Regions from separate parts of the Homo sapiens genome. Here region 2 is linked to region 1. The links come from fine-mapping of genetic effects on gene expression. A gene starts in region 1. The other region holds a variant in brackets. All regions are shown on one strand. Distances are between the middles of the regions.

Evidence for each region. PIP is the estimated chance that this variant, and not a neighbour inherited with it, causes the effect. A credible set is the group of variants that fine-mapping cannot tell apart.
Region 2: its variant is the best candidate, but not a certain one, in a credible set for the expression of GRM8 in lymphoblastoid cells (GEUVADIS, PIP 0.51).

What each region holds. Positions count from the first base shown.
Region 1 is chr7:127,249,372-127,257,708 of GRCh38, reverse strand. GRM8 (glutamate metabotropic receptor 8) reads left to right here and starts at 4,768. Exons shown (of 11, transcript NM_000845.3): 1 at 4,768-4,912. RefSeq lists a silencer at 3,501-3,560 and an enhancer at 3,681-3,930.
Region 2 is chr7:126,927,233-126,935,569 of GRCh38, reverse strand. All of the region lies in intron 3 of GRM8 (glutamate metabotropic receptor 8), which reads left to right. Among named protein-coding and RNA genes, the nearest start is that of MIR592, 130 kb to the left of the region's middle. The variant G/C (reference allele first, on the strand shown) is at 4,223.

The sequences.
Region 1 (8,337 bases):
GGCTGGACAGGTGTCTTTTTGCCAACCACATGTTATAGGTCAGGAATTGCAGTATAGAAATGTGAAAGGGTCAAGATAATATGACTTATTAATGGCAAAGTTAGGGGTGGAGCTCAGCCTCTTTTTCCCCCCAGAAAATACTCGATGGAACCTTCTCAGTGTTAAACCCCATCTAAAGGGAGAGTGGAGTAAAAGAGAGAAAAGAGAGCTTCTGTGGCCATGGACAGATATGAGCATATAGGCACCCCTTCCCTGGGCTCCTCATTTCTCAGGTCTGCCTCCTTAGGCATTGCAAGCAAGTATTCATATATTTAAATGTGCTGCCTGCTGGCTGCCTGTGAGGAGAATGATTTCCTGAATGTAGTACATTTTAAATTTTAGTGAACGTCATTTCCTGGAACGTTTGCAAAACAGGCAGCTTCCCAGGCCCCATCCCAGCAAGTCTGATTCAAACAGCTCTGGGATAGGGCCCAGAAATCTGTGCTTACAATCAGCACCCCTGTGATTTTGAGGCAGGTGGTCCTTGCAACACACATAGAGAGGCACTGCCTTGATTAGTACAAGTTTTATGAGGTTTGCCTAAACAGGTGTTGCAGAGGCTAACTGTGACCTGCCCTTATTGTCTTGTCCTTGACCCCTGATTACATATCACCTGCCTACTAACTGCCAGCCCCTGCATTTTTTTTCCAGAGGTCTTTACATGATCTCTGGAGGCTGCTTTGCCATCCATGTGATAGGCTAGAATTGCCAGAGAATAAACATCATCTGGTAGCAGTTCTTAACTAACATCTTATAAGTGTTGGTGTATAGATACCCCAGCTCCCTCATCCCTCAGTTGGACCCACTCTCTGCTGTGTGTTTTACACTGACTTCCAGAGTTCCCCACTGGGATTAGGTACCAGGTGCCTACAGTGATACCTAGCTTGATAATGCACCCTTTATTGGCTCACTTCCCCACCTGAGTACTGGGATTCCCTTCACCTCTTAAACTACCTGCTCTTGAATCCTTGTTTCAGGTTGTGCTTCTAGGGGAACCCAAATGAAGCCAGTAGAGATGCCCATATACCATATGTCAGAAATTCTTAAAGAATCTTTCCCATGACTCCTGTATGCAGGTATGAGTTGACTGTGGAAGTGCAGAACACACTCATTCATGACATTGGTGTCATGAATCTCATTGGCTCTATCTGACTGTCAGTCTAACATGTCTGATCTTGCTTCTAGCAGCCAGTGTCTAATAAACTGAGCAAAACCCACATGGTACACTCACTGCCATGTGCAGATGGTCTAGCAAGAAAAATATTGTCTTCGTTTCCAAAAGAAACAAATCCCATTCCCACTTTCCCCTGTCAGCTTTGCTCCATGTGGGAGCATCATGCTGTCGATATTTCTCTTGGGTGAGTAGCCTGCAAAGGTTCTCAGCCTTAATGATTACTCCAAAGCAGGAATTGTGGCATAAATCTCCATGTGTGGAATATGTATCACAGCTTGAGTTAAATGGACCCCAAACATATGGCATTGTTTTTTGCATTTTCTAACACATGGGCAGTTTCTCACATTTTAAATCAACTGAAAATGAGAAGATTATAGGCAAATCTTCCTGGAGGATTAACTACTAGGAAATATACTTGGTTTGAATAAACATTTGGGGTGGGATGGAGGATGAGGTCAGACACTTTCCAAAGACACAGTGTGTATTGCAGAGGGTGGGATCCCAAGGGGAGGCAAGGTGGATGACTCTAGAATAAGCTGCATGTCTGGACGGCCTGGTCTTCAGACACTCTCCCCTGACTCAGATTGCAGCAATGAGCAAGCAGCATCATGGTGTTTGGCCCTGACGAATAGAGGTTGTACAGCCAATAACTTTTTCCTGTGAATGTTACTGATAAGGACCAGTCCCTCCTGGAGACAATCTTTCTTCCTGTGTCCCAGTGTTGCTATCAGTCTGGGCGAATTATAACCTGTACATGGGCAAATTATAACCTGTACAGAAGGCTGTGTCACTTGCTCAGGGGCTACTAGATAAAGCCATTGGAAACACTGAAGAATATATAGAAGGGCTCTATTTCTTATTGACCAGATTCCATGTAGGATTTGAGTGATGGTTCTATTTTGAGTATCAAGAGTTAAAGATGATGCAAAACGAAGCATCGGACTTGCACTTTCCTTAGGAGAGATCAAGTCTAGTTTTCTCGCAGAAGGCTGCACCAAAAAGGGCAGCGATGTGCCTGTAAGACATCAGTTCTCTGCAGGTAATGATCAATAGGGAAAGGAGAAAGGCAGCTCATTAGGCATTTCTTCCCCAAGAGGCTCACTCGGCCTCCTTAGGCTTCCAAAGCCACAGCCAGCCTTATTGCCCTTATTATTAAAATGGGCCCACTAGAGCACCAGGCTGCTGCCCTCTTGGCTCATGCCAGGCAACGACCCAACTGGCCCTGCAGCTGGCCTCTAGCCTACCCTGAAGACGATGTGTGGTCAGCAGTTGTCGATGCCCAACGTATTTGCGGGCCTCCTCTGCCTTTCCCCTCCGTCGTGTCTCTTTTCCCCTCAAATTTATCAATGCACACGTAGTAAATGGTCTAAAACGGACTTATTCATACCTCTACGTTATCTGTGATATCATTGCTCAGACCGGGATCATGGGTCTGGAGTTTGGGGTGGAGTGGGCTTCCTGCTATAGAAATCAGGCCACTGCACTTACTTTACACTTCTGGGGGAGGAGGGATCTCTTCCAGTCCCTAAGAAAAGAAAATCTTTAAAGCGTCTTACACGCAGGCGTGCAACCAGGAAGTCCACCCAGCCCCATCTCCGCATAAATTAGGAGCTCTTCCCTCTTCCCACCTTCCTTGTCCCAAGTGGCACCGGACACTGATCACCCTCTTCAGAGCTGCACTAGACATTCACAGGGAATTGAGGTTCCCTATGCAGAAAGGTTTTCAGACAGAGGACCCAGCCCATTTTCTCTCTCCAAATCCTCCTCCCTCCCTCTTTTGTGGTTGCAGCTATAAAATAATGATTCAACAATCAAAGAGCCTCTCATGAGATGGGAGAAGGAAGGGAACGAAAGGGGAAGAGGTGCCCTGGGCTGAAAACCTGTAGATTTTTTCTAAGTGACAAAGGGCAAGGGTCCTTTTTTGAAATTAGGAGAGAGACAGCTGTTTCCTCAATCGAAACTTCGCACATTACAACCAGCCTTGGGAAAAGCCAACACCACCAGGGAGGAAGTGCTATGGGGTTTTGAAGCCAGACACTGATTTCTGGCTGTAATACTTTCCAGCCGTGTCTCTAAGCCTCGGCTTCTGCCTCCATCTGTAGAGTGGGCTTAATAATTTTGACCATCTCACAGAGTTGATGTGAAAATTAAAATAACCCGAACAGAACAGGCGATATATACAGGAATTAATGAAAGATTCCTGACATAATGCTTATAAGTTCATGATGCTTAGGAAGATAAAATTCATTGTAGAGATGCCGAACGGGGGTCTAGAGCTTGCCTTTTCGGGGTCTCTCCCGTCCTTCTCCATCCTCCTTATCTCCTGGGCTGCCCCCTCTCCCCCCGCGCCCCGCTCTCCCTGGCTCGCCCGGGCCTAGGGCGCCGCCTGCAGTTGCGCGCGGCCGCCTCTAGATGGAACTTTCTCACCAACGCAAGGCCCGGCCGGAGCAGCTACCCGGGAGCTGGGCGGCGAGGGGCTACTTTCTCTCATTCCGGCGGGTGCAGGATCGGGGGGCCTGGGCAGTAACTAGTGGGGAGGAGCGCTGGACTGTGCACGTCGAGCCCGGCAGGTTTCCGCATGCGGCATGCGAAGGGAATCCCGAGGTTTCCCTGCAGAACCCGAGCACGGCTCCCCCGGAGTTTCCTGCCCCGCGTCTGCGGCTCCTTGAATCATCTCAATAAAATGACCGTCCCGGTAGCCACCCATGCCCCTTCCTGCGCAGTGCCCGCAGCGGACCGCGCTGTGTGGTACCTCGAGCCCTGGGGACTCTGTTGCACGCGTCCCTCAGACCCTCGGGGGCGGGGAGTGGGGAGACAATCGCCAGAGCCGCGGGGCGGGACAAATGGCGGAACCGCCGCGCGGCGCCAGGCAAACTTTGCAAGGGAACCGCGCGGCTTGCCGGCTCTACTTTAAGCATTCCCGAAAAGAAAGCATGTGGCGGGACACTTGTCATCTACCATGTGTTATTCTCGGTGACGCTTTCTGGAGCTGTGTTCACCGGGGACCCGGGCTCGCGGGTGCTGCCCGCTGTGCTCGGGCGGGCGTCGCGCCTCCCCGCGCCGGTCCCGGGCTCGCCAGGCAGCCGGAGCCGCTGGGCTCCTCCACAACCATATTCCTTCTTCTACCGCTCCCGCTTCTTCCCACCCTCTCACTCTGTAGTTGGGTCCTCCCCTTTTTCTTGGGGGCGGGGAAGGGGGGATGATTTTTAAAAATCAGAACTATTGACATTTCTGGTCTCCTCGTCGCTTCAGGCTGAAGAGCGGAGGGGGATCCGCGGGCCGAGGGTCCCCCTCCCTGCCCGCGCCAGGGCCGCTGGGTGACACCGAAATCCAGAGGCTCCCGCCCCTCGGGGGTTCCTCCTCCCGCTTCCCGAGGTGACTGGTTGGCGCGAAGCGATTGGCGATCCCGGGCGCGATCCTGGCCGCGGCTCCCCGCGCCGCGCCGGGTGAATGGCCGCGGGCGGAGGATCGGGAGGCGCCGGGCGCAGACCAATCGCGGCCGCCGGTGGGAGTATTTGTTATTCACATGGAAGAGACTTGGCGCCTGCTAGGCCAGCTCAGCCCCCTCAGCCCAGAGATCAGCCACAAGTGCGGCCGCTGTGCTCGCCTCACGCGGCGGCGGCGGCGGCGGCGGCGGCGCTGACATGGAGCTGCGGGCCCCCGGCGGGCTTCCTCACCGCGCCCTCTGCGGGGAGCAGGGTAAGACTCGCCGCCCGGCAGCAGAAAGCGGCTCCGAGGAAAGCAAGTGCCGAACCACGGGACAAAAAGCCCCTGGCCCCCAAACTTCCCCAAAACGCCCTGCTTGTTGGAAAAGGAGAATCCCCCCGTTTTATTCCCCTTTCCGTTTTCTTCTCTAAAACCTTTCAGCGGACAGCCAGGTGCACCATTCCTTCTCATATCACTCTAGTGATTTGTTTTTCCTGAGCACAAGTAGATGGCCCTGCATGTCCGTAGTCTGTGAGAGAAATAGCGGGCGGAGGTGACGGGAATGGGGGGAGAAGGAGAGTGGGCACCAGGGGGCGAGGGGCTGGCCGGGCATTGGAGCTTGATTGGGTGTCTGTTGATTTTACGTTGCAAAGAACAAGGCAGCCACCCCTCTTGTCTGCCCATGATTACATTACAGTAAAGAGGTTCAGAAAAGAGGGAGACTTTACCCGGAACTCCCAAGGCTTGGAGATGTGATCCCCCAAAAGTTTAGTCGGCGAATGGGAGACTGAAGGGTGACGGGAAGGGGGCAGGCGCGCTCGGCGCTCTGACTGGGCGTGCGGCGGCAGGATTTTAAAGCGCTCTGCCTCGGATCGTCTGCCCTGGGTGACCTCCCGGACCTGCCCTGGTGGAATCCGGACTTGCCCCGCCGAGATGACGAGGTACCTTCGTTTCGCGAACCTAACAGGAGGGATTTCTGAAGTTAGCGGCTTCCGGGATGAGTCGGGGTAACCCCCGCCCTCTGAGCGTGGGCTGGATGGATGTCTAACCAGGATCTAGGGAGGATGGGGGTCGCGGGGGAAGCCGGGCGCTTCGGGGTCCTCGACACCCACATCCCCGCACGGCGCACGCTCTGCCTCGAGTTTGCGTTCTCCGAGTTAGCACGGCGAGCTTGGGATTTCCGTGCCCCTCTTTTGTGGCTTTCGAGAAACGCCGGAGTTCCGTGTCCTGCTGGGGGTTGGGGGGATGGAGAAAAGGTCTCGGGGATCTTGTTTAAAAAGCAAAGGCAAACGCACCCCAACAGCTCCTCGGTAGCTCCCGCGGCTGGCGCGGCCCCAGTTTCGGGCGGCCCCGCGCGGGGCGTGGGCGCGGGCGCTCGGGCGGCCAGGTGCGGCGGGGGCGGAGGCTGCATCCCCAGCGCGCCGGAATGCCCCGGGGCGCGGGAAAGGCAAAAGCAGCCTGGCGCTCTCCCCACGGCCCCAGTCTCTATCTACCCAGAACCCGGCTTCAACAGCCCAAGGAACTGAGAAGAAAAAGGAACCTGCGCTGGGAAACAGGGGCTCCTGGCGGGCTGAGTGGTCGCTGTTATGGTAGAGATAGAAACGGAGAGGTAGAGATGGACCGCTCAGCCATGCCAAGCGCGAAGCCCATCCGCCCAGCCAGAAAGCTCGGATATCCCTTGAGCTTCGTACAGTTGGTGAAAAAATAACAGAATCACCAAAAAAGAAAAAAAAATTCCCTTCGTCTGACACGCGCTCCCTTGGTGCAAATGAAATGCGGAGGGACACGCGAGTCACCCAGTTGCGCAAAACCGCACCCCCGCGGTTCCCTGGGGAATTACTTCCCCCGTGGCCCAAACTGTGAAGCCTGGTGTCAGAGAGTGTCTGCGCACCCAAGATAGCGGGGGTGAAAACAGACCCCCTCGCCGGTTGCAGAAACCCTTAAGTCCCCTAAGCAAGTCCCACCCCGGGAGGGAGTGCCTTATTTGCCATTTGGGGGATCCTTTCCCACAAACCTGAAGGTGCGGGAGTCTCTGGAACACCCAAGAATACACTAGAGTCTGGGCTACTACCGCGATTGAATACAAATCCTGCCAACTGACAGAACTGGAAAACAGGGTTGGTGGTGGAGATACAAGAAAAATCATGAACGGGAGAAAAGCATTCCTATGGTAGCTTGTATTTTGCTTGAAAGAAAAATAGAGAAAAAGAGCCACCAGCAGGTAGATCGTGGATAAACAGCTTATTGCACTTGCCTGTAATTTCCACTTTCCGTTATGAAATTGTTTGTCAATAATTGCAAATGGCTACAGAAACCACTTTAGTTTACCTTGGTCACTTGCTTGTGAATAATACCGTGAAAGATCTCTGTAGGAGGCAGAATCAGCTGTGTGCAATTCATTCTCTGGTTCTTGAAAACGTGTGGCTTGATAATTTTGAAAAGAAAAGCTTCCTCCGTCAGGGAAAATGAACCAAGGTTTTTTAAAATGCAATTTTTCCATTTTAGAGTCAACTACAGGTTGTACCATGTCTAAGATAGAGAATTCTTGCTTTTGAATAAGGGATGTGGGGAGAAATAGATGACGGGAGGCTTTGTAGGAGACAATTGACCCGGAATAAAGAAGAAGATACTGAGAACACAGCTGTATACTGTTCCTTAGGCTCAATTTGTTCTGTTTGGATTGTGCTAGCTAGTTCTGCCCTGTTATGCACCGTTCGAAAGTTATGGCTGCTTGAATAATTCTAAAAACATCTACATCCAAAAGGAATAGAGAAAAGGAAGAGCTGAGCTCCAGTGAGTGCAGGAGAAAGTTAGAGGTCTGGAGAGATGTGCTCTTTTCAAAGTTGGCTGAGCAGGTTGAAGCTGCTGCGGGGCTTGTTTAATTGGTATTTATGCAGCAAATAACCCGTCTGACATTCACATTGGCAATTGCGTGCCAATCTTTGTGTATGAATGTTCCATTGTCTTCAGGGCACGATGTACAGCACACTACACACATGTTTTTTTCCTTCCAAGTTTCCTTCCTACCACCTTTCTCAGGTAGTTAGAATGCCCATCATAAAGATGACCTTGCTTTAGTTGGGGGGAGTGGAGTTGCTCTGTCCCAGTGTCTTAAAAGAAGATGCTGCTTGAATTTCTCTCTTCCTGGACCCACAGCCAAGACCTGGCCACATCTCCATGTCTGTCAAGTTGGCTGGCTTGCGGAGGTTCAGGAAACTTGCTGTTTTCTTGATAGACTCTGACTGGGCATCCCCAGACTCACAAATGTGGTTCATTCAATAGGGACGGCCACTTCATGTTGTTCCCAGGAGAGGCTATGAGCTGAGAGTTGGCTGGCTTATTGTTTCCATTTCAAGAGAGGGTTTTCTTTCTGCTAGGAATTGGAATTTAGATTTGGGCTTTCTCTCTTTTTTCTTTGATTTTCATTTCTACTTGGTAATTTGACAAATTGCGACAAACTCACCCACTCACTGGGAGGGACGCTGAGCATAATATTGTCTCATCCCAGGACACCCTTTCTCAGTGGTGGGCAATGCTGTTGGAATGATTTGAGAGGTACTGTTGAGACGCTCCTGACTCCTAGCTCTCTGCTCTGGCTTGTTGCATTGCTAGCCTTAACCATTATTAATGGTGATATTTCTTTGGTAAATAAATTATGGCTCTCCTAGGAATCATTTTGAGAATGCAGATGTTCCATT
Region 2 (8,337 bases), 320 kb after region 1:
CATTCAGACCTTGAAATTGTTCTTCTCCTCCCCCATGTCCACATAGCATCTCCTCAACTCTGATAACATACTTTTCTAGTGTTTTGTGAGCTTTAGTTGCTGCCATCCTGCCTAGGTGTTGAAGATTGCCAGTTCTAGTAAGTTTGCATTTTGCAGACTCTACCATGGTATCTCTGCCACCTTTGCTGTTAGTAGTTCTGAGCTAAGGAGTTCTGGGTCTCAGCCAAAACAGTGAACTGTGTCTTTGTGTCCTTCATTTCCTTTCCCTCTTGTTTTTGCGTCTTTGCCATGGAAGTTTCCCTCTTCAACCTAAAGCCCTAGGTACCCTAAAGTGATCTACACAAACATGATGCCTCTCTGTAGTTTCATGCTTTGTTTTTAAAAATGTAGAATGCAAGATTTGCATTCTACTGAGATTTCCCAAACATTGTGCTAGTCCCAGAGAGGTGACAGAGAATGAAACAGACATGGTTCCTGCTCTCATGGGTCCATAGATGATGTTACCCTATATTTATTGAGCACATATTACATGACAGACATTTTTCTGCATTCTTTACATGTACAAGATTTGCATTCTACAGCATAATTTATTCATTTGTTAAATAAACGAATGATCTAAATTACTACCAGTTAAAACGTTCATCTCCCTATGCTTCCAATATTTAAGAAAAACATAATTTGCAGGAAAATAAGCTATGTTTATCCTGTGGCTTTGCACAATCTTTTGACACATGGCTCCAAACCTCCAAGGAGTCAAAGTATTCCTCTTTGAGAAACATACACTATCTTAGTCAAAGAAATTAAGCTCTAACTGTGAGATTTATGCTAAGTAATATTGCTTATGAAGGCAAAGACTCTCTCAGAAAGCTAGAAATTATATCACAGAAAAGACTACCTCCTTTAGATCCAGTCCTACCAACCAGCCATTCTAGTTTCTGCCCATGTCTCATTTGACCCATGTAAGTGTTTACTGTCTCTCTTTTGACCCTAACTACAGGTACAAAGAATCTGAGATTTCTGTCTCTGACCCTTAAGTGTAATCTCATACTATTTAATGTTTTTTGACTTTAATATTGCCAGTCATTTGAAGATATATTTTATTCATTTGCCTTTCAATTTTTTTGTATTGCTATTTCTCTGGCTTAGATATTGCCAGTATGTTCATTTTTAACTCTGTGGTTTAACCTCCATGTACACCATTATTAAAATCAATTTTAAAAAGTCATAAGCATGCTGTGGAGACCCATCACTGAACATTTTTATGAATGATTTAGAGTGGGGCTAAATAATTACATTTTGTGGCTGAAAGACTCTCAGTTGATAAGTTAGAGGAATAAACCATTTTTTTGCCTTCTTAAATATATACTAGAGCTATGTATTTTTATATCCATTTTATAATGTAGAAGCATCTTGATAGCACAGTTGAGAACTCCAGGGGATTTTGCCTCCATCCACATTTCTCTAAATCTGACTCCTTAAGTATTTGGGAAAGAACTTGGTTAAGTTTAAGTATCAACATCATGAAGAGTTGTGTGGGGCATACAAAAGGAACAATGTCTTACCCCTAGCAACTGGGGAATAAGGAGACACAGTAAACATGTATCAACAAATATATCAAGGGCTTAATGGGTAGCAAAGAATGAAGTGATTAAGTATTCATGCCCTCCACATGTATTCACTAAGCTCTGCTACTTCCCAAACATTGTGCTAGTCCCAGAGAGGTGATAGAGAATGAAACAGACATGGTTCCTGCTCTCATGGGTCCATGGATGATGTTACCCCATATTTATTGAGCACATATTACATGACAGACATTTTTCTGCATCCTTTACATGTACTGGTTGTTAATCTTTACAATAACATTATGAGGTATGAAATACATTTATTTACAACTAGGAATTGTTGGAACCAAGATTTGAACCCTAGCATTTCTCTCCACAGCACAGAGCCCTTGACTTCCCCACTGTCCTCCTACATTATCAGCCGGTATGTCCAGAGTTATTGACCTATAAGCTGTGATTAGTGCTAAGAACACCAGGTGCTGTGAGAATTTAATTGGGATTGGTAAATGTGGGTTCAGAGAAGGCTACATAGAGAATAGTTAAAAGTAGCCAGTGAAGTGTGAACGGAACAGAGACTGGACCAAGTCATAGAGCTTGGTGTGTTCAGCTTTTACCTGACTAGAGGAAATTTCCAGATAACATTCATCCAATCCTTAATCTATGTTCTTAACTCTTTCCAGGATGTACTATTTGCCTGCATTGCTCTTCGCACCTGACTGTACAACCTAAAGGAGCCCTCCCCTTGCTTTTCTGTAGCTTTGAATCCAGTCCCTTTAAAAATATTTTCTGGAGGAGAGGAAGATAAATGTGTTTCTGTCAATTGCATTCTGCTGGGGGCTAAGCCACATTGCAGCTGTGTTTGTGATGCTGAAGGCGTCATTCTTGTAACTGTGAGAGGATGGGTCTTTCTAGGAGTCAGCACACATAATTCCTTAGAGAAAGAATCTTGGGCTTTTCACTATCAGAGTCATCCTCATTCTGGTTTTAGCCTTTCCTGGATAGGGATAGGTTTCAGCCACTAGAACTCTGACAGCTCTCTTAACTTACTGCTTCTTGATATGATATAACTCCACAACCTGAGATCTCTACTTCATTTCATAGCCAATCTTGTCTTAATCGGACATTTGAGGGAATCCATCTATCTCTCTCTTTCTTGCCTCCACAATCTGAATCACACAAATTCATTTCTGAGAGTTCTTTTGAATTTTTCTTCTTTATGTGACCTATAATATTCACCCCTGCCTGGCTATAAGGGACTATTATTCTTTTTTCACATATCCTAATTTGTAAGACCTGAACCTCTCCAAGAAAGTGGAGAGAAGAAAGTGCTTAACTCATTTCATTAAACTTAATTTGTAGTCTCTAGGCATATTTGTATATTATTTACCTGCTACCCTTTGAATGCAATAATATGCCTTAATATGTATGTCTATTTTCTCTAGCAAGATAGTGTACTCTTTAAGGTGAGCACCATGCTTTTATAAAATAATTTTTCTCAGAATCCTGTGTGTTGATCAACCATGGATACACAGGAACGTGTCTTAAATAACTAATACTGTGGTAATTCTTTATTCAGTTGTCTGTGATTTTTTTTGTGTAGTGCCAACCTTGAATTTAGTTTGTCAGCTAAAAATACATCCTTTATTTTATATTAACTAATGATAAACAATTTAATCATTGATTGACCTTTCTTAACTTCCTTACTTTTGGCATTGAGGAGTATTAGCCTTTACACACTTTGGTTTCCACTGCCCTTTAAATAAATGTCCGAATGCCACAATTAACTTAATAGATTCTAAAGAAAGACTCATAGCAAAGGCAAACTAAACAAAGTAGTCAACCTACCAACCAACATAAAACAGTCTTGAGAATAGAAAAAATCATTTATGGCCATCTTTTAGAGATGCTAGTGAGATTCCTGCACTGGTAAGGTTGACCCAAGATTACCCTTAAGTTTCTTTCTAAGATGCTATTTTAAAATTTACAGGATAAATTAAAGAAGAAGATTAAAAGGAATGTTAATTAGCATAGTAAGTAGAAAAATGAGGGCTTTGGAATTTGTTGTGAGAAGGGCAATAGTTATTTTGAGTTAGATGCTAAGTGCTGTGTGATGCTCTCAAAGCAACCATGATAAATTATTAAGTATTTGTAATTTATTATACACATCAGAAAATATATTGCAATGTGAGCTGATGTCACTCAATAGCACTGGCTGAGGCATTTGTCTAGAATGTTGTGTGAGATTGAGGAAGCAGTGGACTCATTAGTAACTCACATTGTTGCAGGAGACTGTGTTTTTCTTCCTATGAAGTTTTTTTTACAACTTCAAACTAGAAAATGAAGAATTATAAAGACATATTTACATTGTTCAGTTGTCTTGGTGAGACTTCTGCCCTCTGAAATTATTGAGATAATACTAGTATTTTCCAAAACATGAATTTGACTTCTATTTGAAGTAATGTTTTCTAAATTCTTTATTAATATTTTGGGTTTTTGACTTTTTAGTTATCTGTGAATGATATGAAATGCTATTAATCTATTGTTTGTTAACCTAGTTACAAGCTACATGTCCTATTATGCTCAGTGCAATTTTATAAAGAATAATTTATACTAAACATGCAAAAGCATGCCTCAGGTAAGGATTAATGCATAAGCCCCTA[G/C]AGATTACCATTTTTCACAGAATCTTTGCAACCTGAGTATTTTCATGTACTGATTCAAAGCACATCATTGAATTTGTATTTGGAAGAGAATAAAATATATTCTTGCATTTTATTTCTTAGCAATTGTAGGAGCTCTTGTCATATGCTGTGGTTTGTTAGCTCTGGCACACCTTGAAAATCTTTATTTCCCATTACTCCTGAAAATTATTTTAAAAATCATCCTCTATTTTAACTAACGCATTTTTCCCTTGGATATTCTAAATTTTACCTCCATTCCAATGCATTCAGTATCATCTCTGCTCACAGACAAATTGTTTCACTGCCCTTGAGAGGATTTCCTGAAAACTTCAAAAGTATCTCTCCATCTGCACCAAGCAGTGAGCCTGCTGGAGAGAGGTGGAAGCAGAAGTGAGGGGGTATGTGAGTGCCAGATGGATGGGGACAGAGGAGGCTTGGAAAAGCAGACAAAGAGAGAGTTCAGGAACAGGCCAGGGCATAGCAAAGAGCAAGGATTATGAATACAAAATACACCTCAGTTGCAAGGTGAAAAGTAGCGGTCTCCAAGAATTCTGACTATGAATATCACTTATAATACTCGGCTCACATGAAAACATTTAATAATTGATAGGAATTATCAGCTCATAATCTTAACTATGTTTTGTAACCCATTAGAAGTTAGAAGGAAAAGTGGCCATGAAAACTAAATAGGATAACAATTAGGCTGATAGGATGATGGAATTGGATTATCAGAGGAAATGAAAACTTGGTTGAAGACCCATCATTATTATTTGTTTAATATTGTGCTTTCCCTTGTCTAGAACCTTGTCTGAGACCTCATCTGACATTCCTGAGGCAAAAACATATCACAGTCAGAAGGAGGACTCGGCAAGACCAGAGCAGTGTGTCCTCCCAAAAGAGGTTTTCCTCTTCTGTAGGACTGCCGATCCCTTGGTTAATTTCTAACCAACACTGAGCAATTTATTTTGTATGCCAGCCACTGTTCTAGCTGTTTTGCATGTGCTAGCTCATATAGCTCATGTCAGCTCTTATGAGGTCAGTACTACTACTATTGCCATTAAAATAAGGAGAAAACAGGCACAGAGAAGTTAAGTAGCTTCAGTAAGATCACACAGCCAGGAAATAGGAACTGGGTTTTGAGCACAGGCAGTCTGGCTGAGAGTCTTCATTCTTAATCACTGTTGTCTCCTTCCTATCTAATATAGCTCAGTAAGGGCTTTGCTCCATGAGAATCACATTCTAATTGGTGAAGACACAGGGCTATGATTCCTTTCTTATGGCCTCTGTTGATGGAGACTCCACATTCATCTTTAGCTTCTATATTCTTATTAATTCAATGAAATACATGAAAGTATAGTATAAATTGCAAAGACCAATACAAATATTATTTAATTATCTCCCAAACAGGGGAATTTGTCCCTTAGGTCCTCCTTAAGTTTAAGTTTCTTTATATTTTAAATCTTGTATGAGTACAGAATTCTGCTCTGTACTCATTCTGTATGAGTACAGAATTCTTCTCTGTACTCATTCTGTATGAGTACAGAATTCAAAAAGGATAGACACTAGCCTCATGTGGCTGTTTAAATTTAAATTTAAGGCTGGAAATGGTGGCTCATGCCTGTAATCCCAGCACTTTGGGAGGCTGAGGGGGGTGGATCACCTGAGGGCAGGAGTTTGAGACCAGCCTGGCCAACATGGTGAAACCCCGTCTCTACTAAAAATATAAAAATTAGCCAGGCATAGTGGCCTGTGCCTGCAGTCCCAGCTATGCAGGAGGCTGAGGCAGGAGAATCGCTTGACCCCGGGAGGTGGAGGTTGCAGTGAGCCGGGGTCGCGCCACTGCACTGCAGCCTGGGTGACAGAGCAAGACTCCATCTCAAAAAAATACAATAAAATAAAAAATAAAAATAAATTTAAAACTCAGTTTTTTAGTCACTCTAGCTGCATTTCATATGCTCAATTGTCCTATGACGCTAGTGGCTGCTGTCTTCAACAGCACAGCTATAGAATGTGGTCGTCATAGCAGAAAGTTCCACTGGCTAGCACTAGACAGATTACAAAAGGCAGTATTTCCTTTCAAATGGGGCAACATAATAATTAAATCACATTGGCATTGGACTATCTTATTTTTAAGCTTTTTTATGCTTATAGAATTAATATGATATAATGTCTCTTCCCCTTGGTCTTCTTGCTTACTTATTAATTCCTTTAAGCAAATTTCCTTTTTCTTGTTCCTTTCGTTTTCCTCCTTTTTTCTACTTCAATTCCTCCTTCCATACTGAGTATGTGTGAAAGCAGCTGCCAGAGCCCATTAAATGCATCAACACCTTTGCCTGTGGACAGTCTGCTTCCAGCCTTGCTTCCTCAGACAACCTTTTCTGACCTGCAAGAGGATTCTCTGATACAGCCAGATTGGACCTGAGGTTCTGCATCACCCTTGAATACGTATTTTTTTTTCCCTAAAAGTGTTCACACTTTCTTTTTAAAATAGTTTTGTAGTTCCTCCTATTATTATAAGGGTAGACGTCATATTTAATGTACATGTCAAAGATGGTATCCATATTATATTTAGTAAGTCACACAAGATGAACTATTTTATGTATCTTTTAGGCCAGCAAATGCTTTAACAGTGCCTTGCACTTTTTTTTTTTTTTTTTTGAGGCAGGGTCTAACTGTGTTGTCCATGCTGGAGTACACTGGCATGACCTTGGCTCACTGCAGCCTCCACCTCCTGGGCTCAAGTGATCCTCCCACGTCAGCCCCCCAAGTGTCTGGTACTACAGGTGCAAACCACCATACCCGGTTAATTTTTGTGTTTTTTGTAGAGATGGGGTTTCATCACGTTGCCCAGGCTGGTCTTGAACCCCTGAGCTAAAGCCATCCACCCATCTTGGCCTCCCAAAATGCTAGGATTACAGGTGTGAGTTACCATGCCTGGGCACCTTGCACATTATTAGTTTATACTTTAAGTTCAGGCACATGTGCAGGATGTGCAGGTTTGTTACATAGGTATACATGTGCCATGGTGGTTTGCTGCACACATTAATCTGTCATCTACATTAGGTATTTCTCCTAATGCTATCCCTCCCCTTGCCCCCCACCCCCCACCCCCCAACATGCTGCAGTGTGTGATGTTCTCCTCCCTGTGTCCATGTGTTCTTATTGTTCAACTCCCACTTATGAGTGAGAACATGCAGTGTTTGGTTTTCTGTCCTTGTGTTAGTTTGCTGAGAATGATGATTTCCAGCGTCATCCATGTCCCTGCAAAGGACATGAACTCATCCGTTTTTTAAGGCTGCATAATATTCCATGACGTATATGTGCCACATTTTCTTAATCCAGTCTATCATTGATGGACATTTGGGTTGGTTTCACATCTTTGCTAATGTGAACAGTGCCACAATAAACATACATGTACATGTGTCTTTATAGTAGAATGATTTATAATCCTTTGGGTGTATACCCAGTAATGGGATTGCTGGGTCAAATGGTATTTCTAGTTCTAGATCCTTGAGGAATTGCCACACCGACTTCCACAATGTTTGAACTAGTTTACAGTCCCACCAACAGTGTAAAAGTGTTCCTATTTCTCCACATCCTCTCCAGCATCTGTTGTTTCTTGACTTTTTAATGATCAGCATTCTAACTGGCATGAGATGGTATCTCATTGTGGTTTTGATTTGCATTTCTCTAATGACCATTGATGATGAGCTTTTTTTCATATGCTTGTTGGCTGCATAAATGTCTTCTTTTGAGAAGTGTCTGTTCATACCCTTCTCCCACTTTTTGATGGGGTTGTTTTTTTCTTTTAAATTTGTTTAACAGACCATTTGTCCAGTCACAAGTAGCAGAAACTTAAAAGAGCCCTTTGATTTTTAAAGTCACAATAAACAGGCTGGGCATGGTGGCTCACACCTATAATCCCACCACTTTTGGAGGCTGAATAGGGAGGATTACTTTAAGCCAGGAGTTCAAAACCAACCTAGTCGACATAGTGAGACCTTGTCTCTAAAGAAAAAAAAAACATACTACCAAGTGTGATGGCATATGGCTGTAGTCCTAGCTACTTGGGAAGCTGATGTGGTAAGATCAGTTGA